Linked DNA regions of Homo sapiens. The gene in region 2 interacts genetically with the main gene of each other region. Each region holds a gene or a part of one and is shown on either strand. Other genes may lie near its edges. The genes, in order: CDH1 and RAB25.

Region 1 (4,017 bases), on a different chromosome or scaffold from region 2:
TTAGTAGATTCGGGGTTTCACCATGATGTCAGGCTGGTCTTGAACTCCTGAGCTCAAAGTGGTCTACCTGCCTCAGCCTCCCTAAGTGCTGGGATTACAGGCGTGAGCCACCGAGCCGGGCCCCTTCCTGGGTTTCTATCCTGCCTCAGCTCTATCTCCTTTGAGGGCACAAGGCTTTCAAAAAGGAGAATGAAATCATTCAGCAGTGGCTGTTTAGGATCCTTCAGCGAGGAAGTACAGGAAACTAGGTTTGAATTTTAGCCACTAGCTATTTGACTTTGAATAAGTCACTTTACTTCTATGAGTCTCAGTTTCCCCACCTGTAAAATGGGGCGGTAATACTTATTGATCTATTATGAGAATTAAGTATGTACATTCATTTAGTTCACAAAAGTGAGTGCCTGTTGTGTGTTAGCACCAGGCTAGACCCTGAGGTTACGGCAGATTGGACGGAACATACATGCCAATGGGCAGGAATGTAAAGAGAGAAAGTAGAGAGAATATTTTCAACAGTAGTTGATATTTCTTAGGGACACAGTAAACTCTCAATGTTATTTTGAGCAAATGAATGAACACATGAATAAATCGCTATCTTGGCCAATATTTTTCCCTCTCAAACTCTATGGACTTGGTCCAGCCCTTAAGGTTGATTGTAAATGGGCGGGGAAGAATTTGGTGGGTTAGAACCTTCCATTATGCTCTGTGTGTGCTGGGGATACTGTGTTCATAGCTTCCCTCTGAACAGCTGTGCAGGGCAGGCAGGGAGATCTCAAACCTGAGTCTGGAAATGGGAGGGCATATAGCCATTTTTAAGTGTTTTCCACCTTTGGTCAAATAAAAAGAAATCTGTGGTGCATGCTCACTCTTTCTCTCTCTATCCCCATCTCTAGCCATCTCCCTTTCTTTCTCTCTTCCTCTTTGTTAATGTAAGTTTCCCTAGGCCAGGGATCTCAGTGTCCCAGCTTGTTCTTGTTACTCTTGGGGGACTGGGGTTTAGGCCTCCTCCCTTTCTGCACTTTTCATCTTCCTCCTTCCTTCCTCTTACCTGCCTCCAATCCTCCACTTCTGCCCAAGATTTGGGTGGCATCTTCCCCAAATTCAGAAGGTTCTTGAATCAGACTGCCTAGATTTCAATCCAGACAATGTCACTTCCCAGCCTAGGGATGTCAGCCAAGGACTTAGTTTCCCTCTCTGTAAAATGAGCATAATAGCATGGAGACATCATAGGATGGTATGTCAAGCGTTCAGTGAATATGAAATATTAGAGCCCCAGGAGGACTTGGTGCTGTCTGTTTGAAAGTCTCCCATGTTTTACGTTTGGTTCAAAAGATCCCCTGCGCTCCCTCTCACCCAGCAAACCAGCCAAACCAGTTTCTTCACCCTGCCTGCTTCTGTGTTAAGCAAACAGTGCACTGCAAACAGTGACTAAGCCTAGTGCCTTGTTAGGAAGAAACTGGCGTTTTTTTGCTTGCCACTGTGCAGGGTGCTCAGGGTGGACCGGAACGGGTTTGTTGTGGCTTAGGAAAGGGGACCTGCTCGTGGAGGTTGTGTAGAACTGGAGTGGGAGGAGTGGGGCAAGGCGCAGCTAGGGCCGGGGGAGTCGGGATGATCTTGAACTTGTCAGCTTCTGCTTGGCTTTTAAAAGTTATCCAGGCCAGATAGATGCTGTGGCTCACACCTGTAATCCCAGTGCTTTGGGAGGCCAAGGCCGCAGGATTACTTGAGCCCAGGAGTTTGAGACCAGCCTGGGCAACGTGGCGAGACCCCCATCTCTACAAAGATTAAAAAAAAAATTTAGCCAGGTATGGTGGCGTGCACCTGTGGTACTAGCATCAAAAAAATGCAAAAATTTGCTGGGCGTGGTGGCATGTGCATGTAGTCCCAACTACTCAGGAGGCTGAGGTGGGGGGATTGCGTGAAGCCCGGGAGGTCGAGGCTGCAGTAAGCCATGATTGCACCACGGCACTCCAGCTGATAGAGATCCTGTCTCAAAAAAAAAAAAAAAAATATATATATATATGTATATATATATGTATGTGTAATATATGTGTATATATATGTATGTGTATATATATATATATATGTATATATATTTCATGATGCACATGCCTAAGAATACCTGTCTGTTCTCCTGCTGCCAAAAACGCTCTGTCCCAGCCCCTGAGATCCTTGTGGCTAAAAATCAAATCACCTAGGGCACTTCATGCAGACTTGCCCTCTTGCAGATTCACTGAGAGCCAATCTCCAAGGGTGGAGATCTGAACTTGACATTTACTTACTTATTTATTTTTTGGGATGAAGTCTTGCTCTGTCACCCAGGCTGGAGTGCAATGACACGATCTCAGTTCACTGCAACCTCCGCCTCCTGGCTTCAAGCAATTCTCATGCCTCAGCCTCCCAAGTAGCTGGGATTACAGGCATGCACCACTACGCCTGGCAATTTTTTTTGTATTTTTGTAGAGACGGTTTCACCATGTTGGCCAGTCTGGTCTCAAGCTCCTGACCTCAGGTGATCTGCCTGCCTCAACCTCCCAAAGTGCTGGGATCGCACGCGTGAGCCACCACACCCAGCCTTGAATTTGATGTTTTTAAAAGCTCCTCAGGCCAGGTGCGGTGGCTTACGCCTGTAATCTGCACTTTGGGAGGCCAAGGCGGGCAGATCATGAGGTCAGGAGTTTGAGACTAGCTTGACCAACGTGGTGAAACCCCATCTCTACTAAAAATTCAAAAATTCAGCTGGGCGTGGTGGCATGCTCCTGTAATCCCTGCTACTTGGGAGGCTGAGGCAGAAGAACTGCTTGAACACGGGAGGTGGAGGATGCAGTGAGCCGAGATTGTGCCACTGCACCCTAGCCTGGGCAACAGAGCGAGACTCCATCTCTAAATAAATAAAATAAATAAGCAAGCTCCTCAGATATCTGCTGCCACTCAATGCATTTCCCTGGACAATCCCAGGGGCTAGATGTTTGATGAGTAAATACCCCAGCCAGGATGTGGGCACCTGGTTGTCCAGCCCAAGGCCAGGGATCCCAGGTCACACCCTTGATCAGGGAGGGATAGGCTGGTGCTTCTGCCATGCCCAGGATTGAGAACTCTATGGATGCAAGGAGGGGTGGATGGGAGGCTGGGTGCAGTGGCTCATGCCTGTAATCCCAGCACTTTGGGAGGCCAAGGTGGGAGGATCACTTGAGGTCAGGAGTTTAAAACCATCCTGGCCAATATGGTGAAACCCCGTTTCTGCTAAATATAAAAAAAGCTAGCCGGGCGTGGTGGTGCATGCCTGTAATCCCAGCTACTTGGGAGGCCGAGGCAGGAGAATCACTTGAATCTGGGTGGCGGAGGTTGCAATGAGCGGAGATTGTGCCATTGCACTCTAGCCTGGGCAACAGAGCGATACTCCATCTCAACAAACAAACAAACAAACACACCAAAGTGGGGTGGATGGGTGTGGGAGTGGGGGACCCAGAGAAGTATCCAGTGCACCCAGGCCTAAGACTCACCCCCTACACTCAGGGAGATTCCAGAAAATCTCCAAGAGAGACCTCTCAGCAGGTAATTCCAGTAGGCTCCAAGAATGCCACTGGAATGAGAATGTGTTCAGGGGATGCCAGGAGTGGTCAGCTTCACCTGCTGGGCCTTGATGAGTAAGAGGGTGTCTTCCATGCAAGGAAAGGGAAAGGGCACTCCAGGAGGAGGAAGTGGGGTACCCAAAGGTGTGGCAGGGTCATGGAGGCAGAAGGCTGGAGCTGTGCCTTCCTGGGCACAGAAAGAGGAGGGAGGAGAGGGTCCCAGGATGAGGCTGCAGAGGCAGCTGGGCCAGGGTACCTCTGGGCCTTGGGCCGTGGGTCATGGAGGGTTTTCTCTTTCTGGGCTTTTCATAGGCAAATTATTCACCCGGTTAAAAAATAAGTTTAAATATACATCTTCATATATATATGAAAAAGCTTGTATATATGTCTGTATGGCAGACAGTGAAGTCTCCTTCCCACCCCAAACCACGCTTCACCCAGTTCTTCC
Region 2 (4,193 bases):
GAGATACTAATGGTTCATGTTTACAGTGTACTGAATGCTTACTATGTGCCAGGCAGTGTCGTTAAAAGCTTTACACATATTACCTCATTTAATCCTCATAAGAATGCCATGAATCCCATTACTATTTTACCTGTTTTTACAGACAAGGCGCTTTGGAGGTCAAATGACTTGCCCAAGATAACAGGGCTAGTGTTGTAAACACAGAGATGTGCTGGCCAGATCAGCCTTCAAGGAAGGACTTGCCCCAAGCTGCAGGGAGTGCAGGCTGCAGACAGGCTCCAGCTGTCAGCTCCTTCAGCGTCTGCCTCTGGTGCAGACAGCGGCCTCACTGGAAGTCATGCCTTTTCTGGGCAGCCTACACCCAGTGCTCAAGCAAGGTGAGGCAATCACAGAGCTCCCCGCCCTTGACCCAGGTTTGTCCAGCCTGTGTTGCTGTTTGACTTCTCCCTCTGCCCAATTATGTTTCCTCTCCCTTCCTTTCACAGGTGCTGATTTGTAAAAAAACATTGAGCTGGGCGCGGTGGCTCACGCCTGTAATACCAGCACTTTGGGAGGCCTAGGAGGGCGGATCACAAGGTCAAGAGATCGAGACCATCCTAGCCAACATGATGAAACCCTGTCTCTACTAAAAATACAAAAATTAGCTGGGTGTGGTGGTGCACACCTGTAGTCCCAGCTACTCAGGAGGCTGAGGCAGGAGAATCGCTTGAACCCAGGAGGCGGAGGTTGTAGGAAGGCGGAGATTGCAGTGAGCCAAGATCGCTCCACTGCACTCCAGCCTGGGCAACAGAGCGAGACTCCGTCTCAAAAAACAAACAAACATTGAACACCCCAACTTCTTCTCAGCGTCTGCTTCTAGGGACCCCAACCCAACCCTCAATACTTTTTTTTTTTTTTTTTTTTTTTTAGACAGAGTCTTGCTCTGTTGCCCAGGCTGGAGTGCAGTGGCACAGTCTCGGCTTACTGCAACCTCTGCTTCCTGGGTTCAAGTGATTCTCCTGTCTCAGCCTCCCGAGTAGCTGGGATTACAGGCACGTGCCACCACACCCAGATAATTTTTGAATTTTTAGTAGAGACAGGGTTTCCCCATGTTGGCCAGGCTGGTCTGGAACTCCAGACCTTAAGTGATCCCGCCGCCTCGGCCTCCCAAAGTGCTAGGATTACAGGCGTGAGCCACTGCACCCGGCTGACCAACCCGCAATACTTGTAAGTGGCAGGGCTGAGATCTGAACCCAGTCTGGCTCCTGACCACAATGTTACACTGCCCCTCAAAATAAAATATGACTTTCGGGGATTGTTATGGTATTAATGAGGTAGTGGCAGGTACATAGTAAGTGCTCAATAAATGGTAGTTCCTCATATTATTGCCCCAGACTATTGCTAACCCTTTCCTTCCTGGAAAAGATGCCAGTAGTACAGGTTCCCCAGCTCAAGGGCGGGTTCTGGAGTGAGAGTCCCAGCTCAAGGGAGGGGCCGGGCTGAGGTTGGGAGAGGCATTGGGGTAGGGTGGCTGGAGAGTCCACCCTGCCCTAAAGGAAGTATGAAGGTGGGGTTGGAAAACAGCAAAGGCACCAAACACAGGGGCTAGAAAGATACATGCATGCTTCCAGGGACAGCAAAGTTGAGCCCAGTGCCTGGTATGCAGGTCCAGTGAGTCAGCCAAGGGCCAGGCAGACGAGGCTACAACCCTAGGAGTCCTCTGGATTCTATCAGACTCTGCAGCAAATTCATGATATTTTCTGTCTTCCCTATGTATTTATTGCCCCACCCTATAATGGGATGTGTCTCTCCTTTCTCTCGTTCCCTGTACACCTGCCCAGAAAAGATGACTTTCTTCCTCTTGTTTGCTGGTTTCCCTTTCTTCTCAAGAGAGAAGTCCTGGCCGGGTGTGGTGGCTCATGCCTGTAATCCCAGCACTTTGGGAGGCCGAGGTAGGCGGATCATGAGGTCAGTTCCAGACCATCCTGGCCAATATGGTGAAACCCCGTCTCTATTAAAAATACAAAAATAAGCCGGGCGTGGTGGCAGGTGCTTGTAGTCCCAGCTACTTGGGAGGCCGAGGCAGAAGAATCGCTTGAACCCAGGAGGTGGAGGTTGCAGTGAGCTGAGATTGTACCACTGCACTCCAGCCTGGGCGACAGAGCAAGACTCCGTCTCAGAAAAAAAAATAAAAGAGGGAAGTCCTTTCTGAAGTCTGACCTCCATCTCTTGTGCTGCACTGGCTGACACCAGGGATTTGGGTTTCTATTAGGAACGGGGCAGAGGAGCCTAACTCAGCACTCTTAAGGAGGAATCAACATCATTATTTACCACAGTAGAGCATACTCAGAAGCTCCCTGACTTTTGCCCCTGCAACCAGACCCTCCCCCACTCCCTGCAGCTTTCTTTCTGAAGGAATGAGGAGCCCCAGGAGGTCTTGGTAAGAGATAAAAAAACAGGAGGGGGCCCTCTCTGGCTCTATTCAATCTCTTTCTGGGTCTCTCAGGCTTCCTCTTGCTTCAGGGAACCCAACTCACCCTTGAAGACAAAGTTATAATCTTCCTCAGTTCCATTCCCCATCTTGGCTCCGCATGGAGGGTGCAGGTGTCTTCGGGGACAGAGGCGACAAATCTGTGTGTTGGCTCAATGCCCTCAACCCTCAGCTCTCAAAAGATCTGGTCCTGCCCCTCCTCTCATTGGGGGTAAGGGGACTTCTGCAGCCAGAGGGATTGGGGGCCAACTCAAGGTTAGGCAGGGCCTAGGGAGGATCAGCTCTGGCAGGTGGGGGTGCTGTAAGGAAGCAGAGAGGACGGAAGCTGAGAACAGGAAGAGCGGGGTGGCTGGAGACCTGGGGCCCAGGTGGGTGGAGAGATGATGACGTCAGACAGGTTCGACAGGTTGGGTGTCTGCTCTCAGCCTGGGCTCCCGCAAGCGGGAGAAGCAGCTCCAGCGGGGGGGAAGCGAAAAAGGGACAGGACCTTCAGAGACAGCCCACTGAGGGCTGAGTGTGCATTGCTGGGCTTCTGGAATCTGTGGTGAGGGCCGGTCCCCCAACTAATGAGCAAGAAATAGCCCCTCAGAAACCCACTTGAGGCCAGGCGCGGTGGCTCACGCCTGTAATCCCAGCACTTTGGGAGGCTGAGGTGGGCGGATCACCTGAGGTCGGGAGTTTGAGACCAGCCTGACCAACATGGAGAAACCCCGTTTCTACTAAAAAAATACAAAATTAGCTGGGCGTGGTGGCACATGGCTGTAAACCCAGCTACTTGGGAGGCTGAGACAGGAGAATCGCTTGAACCCAGGAGGCGGAGGTTGTGGTGAGTCGAGATCGCGCCCTTGCACTCCAGCCTGGGTAACAAGAGCGAAACTCCGTCTAAAAAAAAAAAAAAAAAAAATTAGCTGGGCATGGTGGTGGGCGCCTGCAATCCCAGCTACTTGGGCGGCCAAGGTAGGAGAATTGCTTGAAGCCGGGAGGCAGAGGTTCCAGTGGGCTGAGATCGTGCCACTGCACTCCAGTCTGGGCAACAGAGACTGCTTCTCAAAAAAAAAAAAAAAAGGCCGGGTGCGGTGGCTCATACCTGTAATTCCAGCACTTTGGGAGGCCGAGGCGGGCGGATCACAAGGTCAGGAGATCGAGACCATCCTGAAGGAATGAGGAGCCCCAGGAGGTCTTGGTAAGAGATAAAAAAACAGGAGGGGGCCCTCTCTGGCTCTATGGTAGAAACGGTGAAACTGTGTCTCTACTAAAAATACAAAAAATTAGCCAGGCGTAGTGGCAGGTGCCTGTAGTCCCAGCTACTCGGGAGACTGAGGCAGGAGAATGGCGTGAACCCAGGAGGCAGAGCTTGCAGTGAGCCGAGATCGCGCCACTGCACTCCAGCCTGGGCGACAGAGCAAGACTCCGTCTCAAAAAAAAAAAGAGGCCTGGTGCGGTGGCTCCCACCTGTAATCCCAGCACTTTAGGAGGCCGAGGCCAGCGGATCACGAGGTCAGGAGTTCAAGACCAGCCTTACCAACATGGTGAAACCCTGTCTCTACTAAAAATATACAAAAATTAGCTAGGCATGGTGTCACGCGCCTGTAATCCCAGCTACTCAGGAGGCTGAGGCAGGAGAATTGCTTGAACTCGGGAGGCGGAGATTGCAGTGAGCCAAGATTGTGCCATTGCACTCCAGCCCGGGTGACAGAGCAAGAGATTCTATCTCAAAAAAAAA

What was found.
Region 1: changes in RAB25 (region 2) and CDH1 together harm fitness more than expected from each alone (negative genetic interaction), as found in Homo sapiens cells (one large-scale study listed by BioGRID).

Annotation. Positions count from the first base shown.
Region 1 is NC_000016.10:68,743,544-68,747,560, forward strand, and holds part of CDH1 (cadherin-1 isoform 1 preproprotein), read left to right. Parts: intron 1-4,017.
Region 2 is NC_000001.11:156,059,767-156,063,959, reverse strand, and holds the start of RAB25 (ras-related protein Rab-25 precursor), read right to left. Parts: upstream 2,801-4,193; 5' UTR 2,560-2,800; coding exon 2,517-2,559; intron 1-2,516. UniProt on the Homo sapiens protein: The small GTPases Rab are key regulators of intracellular membrane trafficking, from the formation of transport vesicles to their fusion with membranes.